2 linked regions of the Homo sapiens genome follow. The protein of the gene in region 1 interacts with the protein of each later gene in a pairwise test. Each region holds a gene or a part of one and is shown on either strand. Other genes may lie near its edges.

The links. The genes of interacting proteins can lie anywhere in the genome.
Region 2: the proteins of ELAVL4 (region 1) and MSRB2 interact in binary tests that used the Homo sapiens proteins (3 or more experiments, as listed by UniProt).

Annotation. Positions count from the first base shown.
Region 1 is NC_000001.11:50,188,920-50,192,419, forward strand, and holds part of ELAVL4 (ELAV-like protein 4), read left to right. Parts: intron 1-3,500. UniProt on the Homo sapiens protein: RNA-binding protein that is involved in the post-transcriptional regulation of mRNAs. Plays a role in the regulation of mRNA stability, alternative splicing and translation.
Region 2 is NC_000010.11:23,109,079-23,112,578, reverse strand, and holds part of MSRB2 (methionine-R-sulfoxide reductase B2, mitochondrial precursor), read right to left. Parts: intron 2,338-3,500; coding exon 2,261-2,337; intron 1-2,260. UniProt on the Homo sapiens protein: Methionine-sulfoxide reductase that specifically reduces methionine (R)-sulfoxide back to methionine.

The sequences.
Region 1 (3,500 bases):
AAGCAGCCCTCTGTATTGCATGCTTCATTTGTTTACTTTCCTTTCCAGACTGGGATTCGTGAAGCAGAGACATTCCCAACACCCATCCCAGGGCCTGGCACATAGTAGATGTTTAGGAAGGGGAGGAATGAATGAACTCCCATCTTCTAATGCCAGTGTTTTTCTAAAGGAGCAATTTTCTGGGGCTAAAAAGGATGCCTTTTCCCTCTCATTTTATCCTCCTCATTGCACCCAACATGCCTTTATCGTGTTTTCCATGTCCTCTCCCTTTTCTGTATTATGGAGGACAGACAAGGAGTGAGGTATTGCTGGATGATTCAGGGAACATTCTTCCTCAGGTCATGCTGTTCTTCCCACCCTGCCCAGGCCAAGCCCTGTGTATGAACAGGTAAAGGGAGTTGTGGGTGCTGCATGGGAAGAGGCAGCCCTCAGCCCTCGTCCTGATGCCCCATCTGTGATGAATGACAACGCCTGCTTTACCCACCTTGGTGAGACTTGCTGAGAGCAGAATTGGGAAGTCACTTTGGAAAGTGGAAAGTACTTTGTCGGCATAAAGCAGTGGGATCTGTGGAAATGTGTTAGAGGACATTCATGTCAGTAAAGTGGTAAAAGATGGTCCAGACCCCACCAGGGTGGCAGAGGAGGGCAGTGCCTCTACAGGCATTCCCTGGTAGTGTTCCACATGTTTTTTTTGTTTGTTTTTTGGGGGTTTTTTTCCGGTGAAATTGGAGGGTATGTCCCAATGGGAGCTAGATTCCCAGGCTGGCCCACAAAAGCCTGTATGACTCATCACATAATAATATGTGTAAGTATCTACTAAGTTCTAGGTATGTGCTAGACAAATATATCAACTCAGTTCTTACAATAACCCATCAAAGGATAATTGACCCCCTTTTTACGAGCAAAGATGTTGAGACTTATCAAGATCAAATTACTTGCCTAAGGTCATGCAGCTAGTGAGTACTGGAGCTGACCCACAGTCAGGGATCATAAGCATGATGCTATAGCATCCTTCTGGTGGAGGATGGGAAGACTGTGAGCACCAGGGATGGGGAGAGCTGAGGAGCTTGGAGGGACTTCAGATCTTCCATAGAGATCATCTGTAAAGTCAGCTGCTTACAGTCACCTGGCTTTGAGCCACCCCTACCCAGAGAGAGGAGTGGCTTCTTCACTCCCAGCCCTTTCTGAGTTCCAGAAGGAGGTCAGTGCTGGCCTAGAGATGCCAGTCTTGTCTTCAGAGATTCTGGATGAATGAAGCAAACAGGATCCTGACTGAGGCAAGGGGGGTTCTCCAGGGCGCTGGCTCCAGTGTTGGAAGCCCTGTGACTCCAGGCCACTGGCCCAGGGGCATTAATATGCCATCAATGCTGACCCTGAAAATTGGCAATTTTTTGGAAATCTTTCAGCCTAACCAAGGGCCTGACCACTGTAGTCATTCAGTTAGAATTTAATACATGTATATGGAAAGTTGAAAATTTTAGGTACTAGGATGAACATTTGGATATTCAATGCAGGAAGATCTTTTTTCTGTCATTTTTGTTTATCCATACGCCACAGGTTTCATGGACAGGAAACTGAGAGAACAATAGACTTAAGGTTCCATATAGGTGAGAAATACTAAACAGGAATTAGACTTGGTAGAGAATGATTGATGTGCTGTTCACCTTTGGGATTTGTTGCTGCCTTTGGGGATTTAGGGTCTGTCTCTGGAGATGTGTTGCAGTAATTCTCCCTAGCTGAGATTCTACCTATGTTGGAATCAACTTTTGGGGAAATGGTTTTTGTTGTGTCACCAACTTTCAAGTGCCAGCTCCTCTTCCCTGGCAGGGTTCACCCTGTTCCCTCTGTACCCTAGCTCTGGCTGTGCAGAACTAATGGGAGTTAAGGTCATGACTATCCATTATGCATTTATTGGGTGCCAGGTACTGTGCTAAGCCCTTGATCTTCATCACCTCATTTGTCCTCGTGACAGAGGAAGGCTATTATCAGGCCACCATTACCTGACTCCACCACCACCTTTCTCACCACCAGTCTCAGCTCAGCTGTGTCTCCTTCCCGGCCCTTTTAACCTTTGATTAATCTCTCCCTCCTCTGTGTTTTAGTCACACTCATATGTATCCCTGGCATAACACACACATCTTGTGGCACTGTGATAATTGGTCTGTATGTTTACTCATCCATTCTTTTGTTCAACACATTTTATTGAGTGCCTCTTATGTGTTGTCTGTTGCCCTCTTTGGACTTGGAGTTCCTTTACAGCAAGAGACTATGCCTTGTTCTTGCTGTGTTGCCAACACATACCACTGTACCTGGCTCATAGTAGATCCTCAGGAAATATTTGCTAAGAGAAGGCCTCTATGTGAGGTCTAGTCCTAGAACAATCTTCTTTCAGTCCTTCCAGCCCCAGGCATTGGAAAATGGGAAATATGTCCCTTAGCTCTTAGCTTGGTGGAGAAACACAGCTGGGATTCTGGGTGCCTGACTCTCAGTGGTCCACCTTACTGGAGTTACAGTTAACTCCAAAGAGCCAATAATATCAACATCATTTCTCATGAGCTGTGGGTGTTTATTCATTTTTTCAGTAGGTGTTGAACACTTTATAGGTATCAGGCTATGTGCTGGGAGCTAGAGTCACAGAGTTGAATAGGACACACACACACACAAGACCTACAACCTAAAGAGATCATCAGCCTAGATGGAGAGGTGGTCAGTTAAGGTTGAAACGGGTTAAGTACCATGGTTCATTGAGAACACTGCTGGGGAGATTTTTAGGAGAAGGTGAGATTAGAGAAAGCTGCCTAGAGAAGATGTCATTTGATCTGAGCCCTGAAGAGGAGTAGGATTTGGACTTGAGGAAGTAGGTATAAAAAAAATGTCTGTATGAGCAAAGGTATAAAGGTGGTAGGTTGTGTTTTGAGGGAGCACAAATGTCATTCGGATAATTAATTTGTCAGTAATTGGCAAGGTGAAACAAGGGTGACCCTCATTGCCATGGGCATATCACTATGATGTTTTTATTTCCTTCTTCCACTTCTTCCTCTTACTCAAAAAATAGTTCTGCTATTGACACACTTTGTCCCTTAAAGAACAGGGGTGGGAGAACCTTCTGTGGAGTGAAGCCCTGTCCAGACAGTCACATGGGGTTCTTAGTCCTTCAGCCCACACTGCAAATGCACACACTGGGACCCCCTATATAAAGGCCCCTCTACATCTCAGCCATGTGCTGAGAAGGAGCCCACAGAGGCCTCCCAGCCCACCCGTGAGTTTCTAGAAGATGGAGATACTGAAGGCAGCTGCCTCACTCCATCAGCAGGAGGAGGCCAGGGAGGCAGATTAGTCACTCACATCATTTTATCTGTTGAGTCAACATCTATTTTTAGGCATGGAACCCATAAAGGGACCTGGCATGTCTGTCATGGAAAGGGGGAGAGTGCCATGGATGAGGGTTCTGCTCATCCTTCATCTTCTTTGCTAGACCCATTCTCTCCCCTGAAGGTCAC
Region 2 (3,500 bases), on another chromosome or scaffold:
CATTACTAACTTGCATCAAGTGCCTGGCCTGAGTCAGTCATGTCAGGCATTGCTCTATGCTTTTCCATGTATTAATTCATGACTCAGATTATCCTCCCAACAACCTTATGAATTAGGTACTATTATCTTCATTTTACAGGTGAGGAAATCAGACACAGAAAGGTTAAGAAATTTGCTCAAGGTCACACAGCAATGGAGCCAGGATATACACCTTGGCAATCTTAACCATTCTACTGCCTCTCCCATAAATGAGTGCATCTTTAAGAATAGTATATTCTGGAACATAAATAATCTTCAGGAATATATTATTTCCTTCAGCTGCAGTAGCAGCAACAGGAAAGGGGAAGAGAAACAAACTCAGAAGTCTTTAAGAATGCAAAATGGAAACTTTTCAGCTCAAACTAAATGGTTACACAAAAACAAATAAAGTTAGTGAATTGGCAGTCTCATAAACTGGCCACTTGGTCAATGGGCTTTTGGAGAATCGGCTGGTTTTCCTATTAGTCTTGGCTGCTTCACAACCTCCAGGACCTGGAGTTGGTCACTTAACTTCCTTAATTTGAACTAGCATTGTGCTAATATAGTAGCCTCTGGCCACATGTGGCCTTTTAAGTTTAAATTAATTAAAATTACATTTAAGTTTAAATTAATTAAAATTAAAGTTTAAATTAATTAAAATTAAATTTAAGTTTAAATTAATTAAAATTAAATTTAAGTTTAAATTAATTAAAATTAAATTTAAGTTTAAATTAATTAAAATTAAATTTAAGTTTAAATTAATTAAAATTAAATTGAAAAAGTCAGCTTCTCAGCCATGCTAGCCACACCTTGAGTGCTTAACAAGCTTATGTGATGAGCAGCTACCACATGGCCAGATACAGACATCTCCATCACCACAGGAAGTTCTACTGGACAGAGCTTTCTGCTCTGGACTCAGGACCCTCCTGGCTCCAGTATTCTGACACCACAACTAAGCCTGCAAGGTGAAAGGAAGGGAAGAAGTCCCCCCCTTTTTCAGATGCAGAAACCGGAACATCAAGGAAGGGGAAGAGTGAAGACTGTGATTTAAGAGAATGCTCTTGCGAGGATGATTTATCTTCTGTATTCACAGTGCAAAGAGGGAGACAGAGCACTGCCTGGTGCCTGCGGTAACAAGGGAGCCCTTGACACGCTGGCAGCATGGTTCTATGGCTGAAAGCTCATGGGCCATCTCAAAATCCTACCTCTCCTCTTTAACACAACCAAAGGTCAAGAAATAACTATTGTCTCAGAAACCTGAGTCCCACATTTTACTGTGCAAAAATTAACCTCCTTCTAGTTTCCCCCATGCCAACGTGAATGCATCCGGGCAAAGGCCTGCCCATCTGTGAGCACGGAGGAAAATCGATGCTAATCGCTCCTCATCCTTGCAGGCGGGTCCGGCTTCCTAAGGCAGCCCACATTAGCAGCCAGCCGGGCAGGAAGGCCCAGACTGCTCAAAGCCCAGAGGACAGAAGGAAGCACTGCCTAATGGGCAATGCACAGAGCTGGCTTGATTTATATTTTATTCTAAACCAATTTAGGGTTGATGCAAAAGAAAGGAAAACATCTTTGAAGTTCTGAAAAATAGGACTTCAAAGATGTTTTCCTTTCTTCTCCATCGAATCTACTTTTTTTTAAGACTGTTTCCTGCATGTCTAAACAAAAAAGCCTTTGTTGAGAGATTTCAGATCCTGATTGACTTAAAAGAGGCTTTGAAATCAAGGGACAAATAAGTTTACTTTTAGCTATATAGAAGAGGGTATGGTATTCGCTACTGTCAAGCATTGTGGGGAATCTATCCTCATAAAATTCTACATTTCCTAAATTAAATTATAAACCCATTTTCCCTGGGAGAGAGTTTTAATCACATGGCCCAGCAAATATAATCACGGTTTAGATTTCTTTAAATACTTTCCCTCTAAAAAAAAAAAAACTCTAATAGCTTTATCATAAGGGGCCCACTGAGTTTTATTTCCTTGCTATTTCTTGAGGATAGAGAAAGGAAGAATATAAGCTAAGAAGTCTTGTTAATGGCTCTAAATGCTAGAAAAAAAAGTCAAGACAGGCAAGTATCTTATATGAATAGCTCTCCTTACAGCAACAATGCAAAATGAGAAGAGCAATTTAAAAAACAAAATGGGTATTATGGGTATTTATTTATCCAAGATCTCAAATGAAACAAAGCAGTAAGAACCTGGAGGTTTGGTCTCCTTCCGTGGCTCTCAATTCTTTATCTTACCTGAAGAGTGGACTGTCGCAGCACACGCAATGATACATTCCTGCTTCCTTGTTATTCAGGTAGATCCCACTGAAAGGCTGAAAGTAAATTAGATATGTCATGTTCAGATTTCTCATACTACTGGCAGGAGTTGAAACAGCAGATTTAAATCCTGGGTAAGTCCCCAAATCAAGGAATTTCTGTACTAATTTGACGAAGTGCAAATAACGCCAGAGAGAAAATTATAATGTACCCAATGAAGCAGCCTGCAGATGTATTTACAGCCTGGGCTTTATTGCACCCAATATTCAAATTATGACTTTGATAATCTTTGTATTCATACAGGACTTTTCATCCAAGAGCATCAAAGTCGGTGAAAAAGCAAGAAAACAGAGTCTTGTCCTCTGTGACTGTGTGAGATTTCGGTCTCCCTTTTAAAAGAGTTAATACAACAGGAATCTAGTCCACTGTCTAACATACTTTGAAATCTCCAATTAAAGACAGAATATAAATACATAAAAAGCATAGTTCAGTGAGATCAGGCATTTTGCCTTTAATATGCTTCACATAATGTTTAGGACACAGCATACTTAATAAATGTTAAATAATGAGCTAGATTCCCCACCCCCTCAGTGCCCAGGTTACTACTTAGATGAAATTACTGCGTTCATTGTGGGTTACAGGGTTTGCAAGTTTTCAGAGGTATTCTGAGAGGAGAACAAGGAGACAAGTCAATGAATTAGCCAAGTCAATATTTTTTAAAATGTTATTTCTCAAACTTGATTTTTTTTTTTTTTTTGAGATGAAGTCTCACTGTCACCCAGGCTGGAGTGCAATGACACGATCTCAGCTCACTGCAACCTCTGCCTCCCAGGTTCAAGTGATTCTCCTGTCTCAGCCTCCCGAATAGCTGGGACTACAGGTGCACGCCACCACGCCTGGCTAATTTTTGTACTTTTACGGGGTTTCACCGTGTTAGCCAGGCTGGTCTCGAACTCCTGACCTCAAGTGATCTGCATGTCTTGGCCTCTCAAAATGCTGGGACTACAGGCATGAGCCACTGCACCCGGCTGATGACTTTTTTTTAAAGACCATTTTTGCCCAATTTCTTTTGTCATCTCCCCTGTCAAAGAAAATTAAATAAAAAACAACCCTTGCACAAGCTGACCATGAAGATCCGCTATCACAGGGCCTGGCGGCAGGCACTGTCCCCTCCTATGGGCCAGAGGAAAGCCAGAGCACAGAACAGCTCACCAAGTGA